Linked DNA regions of Homo sapiens: region 1 is linked to region 2. The links come from fine-mapping of genetic effects on gene expression. A gene starts in region 2. The other region holds a variant in brackets. All regions are shown on one strand. Distances are from middle to middle. Region 1 overlaps KLHL26 (kelch like family member 26). Region 2 holds the start of KLHL26 (kelch like family member 26).

Region 1 (2,901 bases), 34 kb before region 2:
TGGCCAGAGCTGGGAAACACGCCCAGATTACAAACAACCCCGGCAAAAGGCATTGCCAAGAACGGCTCAGCTGAATCTTAACCCCAGAGGCTGGGCACGTTGCTGCTGGCACCAAATCAGGGATCTGATGGTGAGGAGGGAGGAATGGCTGCCCGGCTGGCCACCAGAATGAGAGCGACAGGAAGACGAGAACAAAGCAGGGGCCTTGCTGGGGGTGGAGCACGGCTTGGTGCCCTCCTTTCCCCGGGGTTTGCACACAGAAGGTGCCCACGGCCACTAGTGTGAAGAAGGCTGCCCTCACCTTCCCGCCCCAGCACCTCTCCTTTGTGCAGCAAACATTCGAGCTATGCTCCGTCGGTGCCAGGCTCTGTGTTAGGCGCCAGGCCGCTGAGATCCACGGTCAGGCGCCCCGAGGAAGAGCAGGGTCCGAGGCTGCACCGTGCAAAGTGAATCTCCAGGGCCCGTGAGAACGGACGAGCTGGAGCTGCTTCCTCGGAGACAGAGCCAGGGGCAGGTTTCCAAGCTGGCCAGGTCCGGGGCGGATTCCCACCTCACACGGCTCCCCAGAGGCCCCCTTGGCCCTCACTTGCTGAGAGGCCCCAGAAGTCGCACTTGGCCTCCCTCTTGCGGGCCTGCATCTGACCGTCCCGAGAGACAGCGTTTTCCCACAGCCTGAGCCCAGGTGCAAGGGAGGCTCCTGCAGCCGGCGTCCAGGCCTCAGCGAGTAGGCAGGGCATCTGGAAGTAGACAGGCTTCCCCCAGGCTCGGGGCGGTGCCGGGCTCCAGACCCCTTTGGGCCGCCAGGCAGATTGGGCTACGCTGGTCCAGGGGTGCATGCACAGATATGTGTGTGTGTGCATATGTGTGAGCTTGTGTTTCACTGTGTGCGGGTGAGCGTGTGAACGCGCTGCAATGCGTGGGTATGGGCAAGCATGCGTGTGCAGGCGTGCACGAGCACGGCCATGTGAATGTGCGTGTTGCGGCATGCGTGTGCAGGTGTGTGCATGAGCATGTGCGAGTGTGCGCAGGCATATTCTGCCTCTGAAGGACACAAACGTTCACAAAGTGAAGATTCAAGCCAGTTTCTGCTAAATTAAAAACAGCTTTTTCATGTTTAAAGTTTACAATACGAAAAATAATTTTCCTTTCTTGGGGGGATGCGGGGGGAGGCTGAGGGAGGGGCAGGGGGCCCCACGAACATTCCACGAACCGGCCTAGACGGTTATGCACAATCGATCCGGTTAGATACAGCAGCGCCCCCCGCCCTGGGCCGGCGCCCCTGCCAGCTCACTGGGGACAAGATGTTCTGAGGTGTGAGCTGATCCAGGGGACTTGCAGCTGGCAAAGCTTCTCACTGCTCCCCTGAAGGGGCCATGCCTCCAGTGGGGAAGGGTTCTCTTTGGGGGAGCTCAGGTC[G/A]GGGGTGGGGCTGGAATGTTCTGGTAAGTCCCCAGGGAACTCGGCTTTTGTCTCGATGCCCCTGACAGTGTGGGCTTCTTTTAGGTTCCCAACCATGTTCCTATTTTAGCACTGCCCACCCCCTCAGCCTCTAGTGTTACCCCAGCCCCGATGGCTGCCACACAGGAGCGCCAGGCATGCAGGCACAGCAACTTATGGAGATCCATGTGTGTGTGATATCCCAGGGCCTCCCTTCTGGGAAGGCCGTCCGGGAACATCAGGCTTTCTCTGCTAACCTGCAACTGATAAGTGGCCTGCTCTGGGCAGCCCAGTTCATAGTTTGGCCGGCCATGATGAGAATAGGGGGCTGAAGGCTCTTCCAAAGTGCCAAGGTTGGTCCGGGCATGGTGGCTCACACCTGTAATCCCAGCACTTTGGGAGGCAGAGGCAGGTGGATCACCTGAGGTCAAGAGTTCAAGGCCAGCCTGGCCAACATGGTGAAACCCCGTCTGTACTAAAAATACAAAAATTAGCCGGGTGTGGTGGTGTGTGTCTGCGTCTGTAATCCTGGCTACTTGGGAGGCTGAGGCAGGTGAATTGCTTGAACCCAGGAGGCAGAGGTTGCAGTGAGCCGAGATCACGCCACTGCACTCCAGCCTGGGTGACAGAGCGAGGCTCCGTCTCAAAAAAACAAAAAAACCAACAACAAAAAACGCCAGGGTGAAAGTCCTGGCCACGCTTCCTGCTGCCTCTGCGCCCCTGAGCCAAAGCCCAGCCCACTGCCGACTCCTCTGAAAGGCTGGAAAAGGTTGAGGCGGGGGAGAGGAGCCCCCAGACACGCGGAGGACACACGAGGAATCTGTGACCAATCAGACCCAAGCCGCACAAGCTCAGTGCTGGGCCGGCTCCATCTCTTCACCATAACATTTTTATTAAATAAAGGGAAATATTAGGAGACGATGTCTGCTAAGATAGGAGGTTAATTCTTTACATGGTGAGTGGGTCACAGAGACAAGACATCAATCGTCTGTTAGCAGCGAGAGAGACACTTTAAGTTGCCCCAAGAGTACAAATCCCATCTATGAGACAGCAGTGCTGGCTTCTTAAAAACAGTAAAACCAATCAAAAAGAAAAGATTTAGAGGTTCAGACATTAGAACAAATGTGGCCAGAGATACCACAGAGCCCTTGAAGGGAAAGGCCTCACTGCTGGCTCCGTAGCAATGTTGACCCAAAAACAGGGCAGGCCAGGGAGTGGCAGGGCGCGGAGGGGTGGAAAGGAGGGAGGAGAAAAAAGACACCCCACCAGACCTGCGGCAAGCGCCACTATGGGATTCTGAAGTTAGCGTCGCCCTCCAATTGCGGGAAGGGGACTGCCTGGCCAACAGGGCAAATGTAGAGGGCCGGGATGTCTCAGCCAGTTAAGGCCCCACAAGATGCTCAGTGCCAAATGGAAGGTCCCAAGCCCCTAAGGAGCGTTTCTAGGAGTTGATATGGTTTTTCCTCC
Region 2 (2,901 bases):
ACTGTCCCTCTTCCCTGTCCCTTACTTGCCAACTGATACCCAATTTTCAAGCCCTGGCCACTCCCTGAATATCTCTGAAAATCCTCTGACATCTCCTGGCTCCCTACTGCAGGACAATCTTGCCCCACACCTACCCCAGGAGGCTGGTCACCCCTCTGGACACACACCTCCTGGGTTCCCCATGGCCCCTCTGGCAGACCAGATTCAATGCCCACAGACCTAAGTCTCAAGGTGCCACTCAGCATCCTCAGGAACAGGCAGGGCCTTTGCCTCCTCTGTGCCCTGGCCCAGCCATCCCTCCTCCCTTCCCCACCCATCCCATGCGTGTTCCATTCAGTACCAAATCACACAGCCAGGCCATCAGGCCATTCCCTCCAACAATCAGCCCACAGGTCCAAAACTCCACAGCACGTAAGTATCAAACAACTTCATCATTTATCATGTTGCCTGAAATTACTGGCTCCTGGAAGCTCACCAGCAAGAAAAAGCCTGAATTTCCTCCTTGGCCTGACCTGGGTGCTGGGCTAGAGGAGGAGCTGGGGTGGGAGGGTCTGGCTTTGCCCAATAGGAAAAGAGCAGGAGATCACACTCCTAAGGCAGGTGTTCTTTCCCTCTGACAATCCAATACAATGCATGCACACACATATCATTAGTTATTGATGATAACTAATTGTCATGCAAACCTGGACGTTCAAGCAATCCATGTCAGGACTGGGCCATGGGGAAAGGGGGCCTCCCTCTGACCAAAGGGGTGAATTCTGTCCCCTTGTCTGAGGGCAAGACCTTTCTGTAAGTCCTTTAGCCTGTTGGGGATGTGGATTTGGACCCCATGGGGATGGAAGGGAGGAGCCCCAAAGAAGAACCCTCTGTATGTTCTTTATAAACCCCCTGGAGTTCTCTCACCCCCCTCAGGTTCCCTAGACCCACCCCAGGCCCCCTCAGCCTCCCCATCTCAGACTCCCAGATTCACCTAAGTCCCCCACCCAGAGCCTCCCACAGTCTCTACTCCTTCCAGCGCCCCTCAGCACGCTCTCAGGACCACCTTTAGCCACCTTGGGGCCCTTCAGCACCTCCCAGGATGCCTTGGGCCTTAGCCCCTTCCTCAGAGCCCCCAAGACACCTCACCACCCTCAGACTGGCCATGGCATGGCCCCTGCTCAGGCCCTCTCTGCTGCCCAGGCCCTTTGGCATCCCCAGTTGCCCCACGGCCCACCACAGTCAAGAGCCCCTCGGTTTCCCTTCAGACCCCCAGGATTCTCAGGTCCCTAGGGCCGCCTGCAGACGCCTCGAGGTCCTGGGGCACCCAGCCCCCCTCCAGCCACCCCCTCAGTAGCCCTCGGCTCCTCCAGTACCCCACGGCCCCGTAAAGTCCAAATTCTCAGCGAAAGACCCTCGAGCCGTGCCAGGCCTCCCCTCAACCCCTCAGGACGCCCAAGACTGCCCACAGGTTTCCTGGGCTCCAAGACAGGTGCAGGTCTATCCTGCGGGCCGGGTCTCACCTGTTCGGGCGCTCGGGGCCCGGGCCCGCGCCGAAAGCGCCGCCGCCACCAGCACCACCGCTGCTACCGCCGGACTCCGCCATCTTCCCCCCGCCGTCGCGCGTTCGAGTGACGGGAGCCGCGCGCGCAGGCCCGGGAAACCGAGACGCGGGGGGCGGGGCGGGGCCAGGTCTGCGGAGGGGCGGGGCCGGGACCAGAAACCAAGGATTGGGGCGGGCCCGGAATCGGAGGGGCGTGGTCTACGGAGGGCCGGGGCGGGTCTGGGATAAAGGGAGGGGCCTGCTATGCAGAGAGGTGGGTCCAGGGCGGGGCCTGGGCTAGGGGTGCCGGATTGGGGCGGGACCCTGGCGTGAGGGGCGGAACCAAGTCTGAAAGGGAAGCGGTTCTGGGCTGAGAGGGCGTATTGTCTGTGGATAGGTGGGGACGGGGCGAAGCAGGACAAGTAGGCGCAGGATGGGGTTGGTCCCTGGGCTGAGGAGTGGGGCGGGGTCTGAAGAAGGGGCAGGCCCAGGGCAAGAGGAGGAGGGACAAGGGTCCGGCCTGCGGAGGAGGCGGGGCGCAGGATAAAGGGCGGGGCCAGGTGTGAGAAGGGACAAGGTGGAGGTTAGGAATGCGGTGGGGGAGTGGTCGGGGAGGTAGAAAGGAGAAGATGGGTCTGAGGTTGGGCGGGTCTGGGCAGGAGAGAGGAGGAATCTGGGGATGGATGTGGTCAAGCGAAGAGAGGGCCTGGTCTGAGGAAGGGCGGGGCCTGGGCGAGGGGTGGAGTCTGGTTGGAAGGAGGGCGGGGAAGATCAGGGGTGTGTGCGTGGAGGGGGCGAGGGATTGGCGGGGCCGGGGGGGCGGAGCCTCATCTGATGGGGGTGGGGCCGGGCTAAGTGAGCGGCGGATCTGAGGAGGGGCGGGGCACGTGCAGGTGTTAAGGAGTGTCTGTGAGTGCCCTGGGGCGCTGGCAGGCGTGCCCCGGGCGTTGGCTGGGCGTGGTTATACTTTGAGGCGTTGGAGCCACAGGGAAGTGAGTTATAGGTAGGGTGGGAGGGAGGGTGAGATGGAGCATGGAGAAATGGGTCTCTAAGCTCTGAGAACCACACCCTCCCTCTCCCCACCCTGCACACCCCGACTCCAGTCTTACCTCCTTCCCAGGCCTCTCTCAGGGGCGAAACTCACCCATGCCCAGGCCTCAGACTTCCAGCCCCTCATGGTTCCCCACCCTCCCCTGACATACCCTCTTCAGAGCCTCCACCCTGAGACCCCAATCATCTGGCCTTAGGTTCCCACCACCTGCTTCATACACCAATTCTGGTTTCTCATACTCTAAAACCCTGCACATCCAATTATCTCCCATTCTCTACTCAAAACTCATCTCCCACTCCCCCAAATCCCTGCCCACAGATCCTTCAAACCT

What was found.
Region 1: its variant is fine-mapped to the expression of KLHL26 in cerebellum (GTEx, PIP above 0.99).

The regions. Positions count from the first base shown.
Region 1 is chr19:18,669,903-18,672,803 of GRCh38, reverse strand. It overlaps KLHL26 (kelch like family member 26), which reads right to left. Exons shown (of 3, transcript NM_018316.3): 3 at 1,083-2,901. Among named protein-coding and RNA genes, the nearest start is that of CRTC1, 12 kb to the left of the region's middle. RefSeq lists an enhancer at 1-425. The variant G/A (reference allele first, on the strand shown) is at 1,417.
Region 2 is chr19:18,635,736-18,638,636 of GRCh38, reverse strand. It overlaps KLHL26 (kelch like family member 26), which reads right to left and starts at 1,609. Exons shown (of 3, transcript NM_018316.3): 1 at 1,500-1,609. The coding sequence starts at 1,582. RefSeq lists enhancers at 656-1,170, 1,171-1,685, 1,644-1,938 and silencers at 1,425-1,934, 1,985-2,144, 2,155-2,234, 2,275-2,464.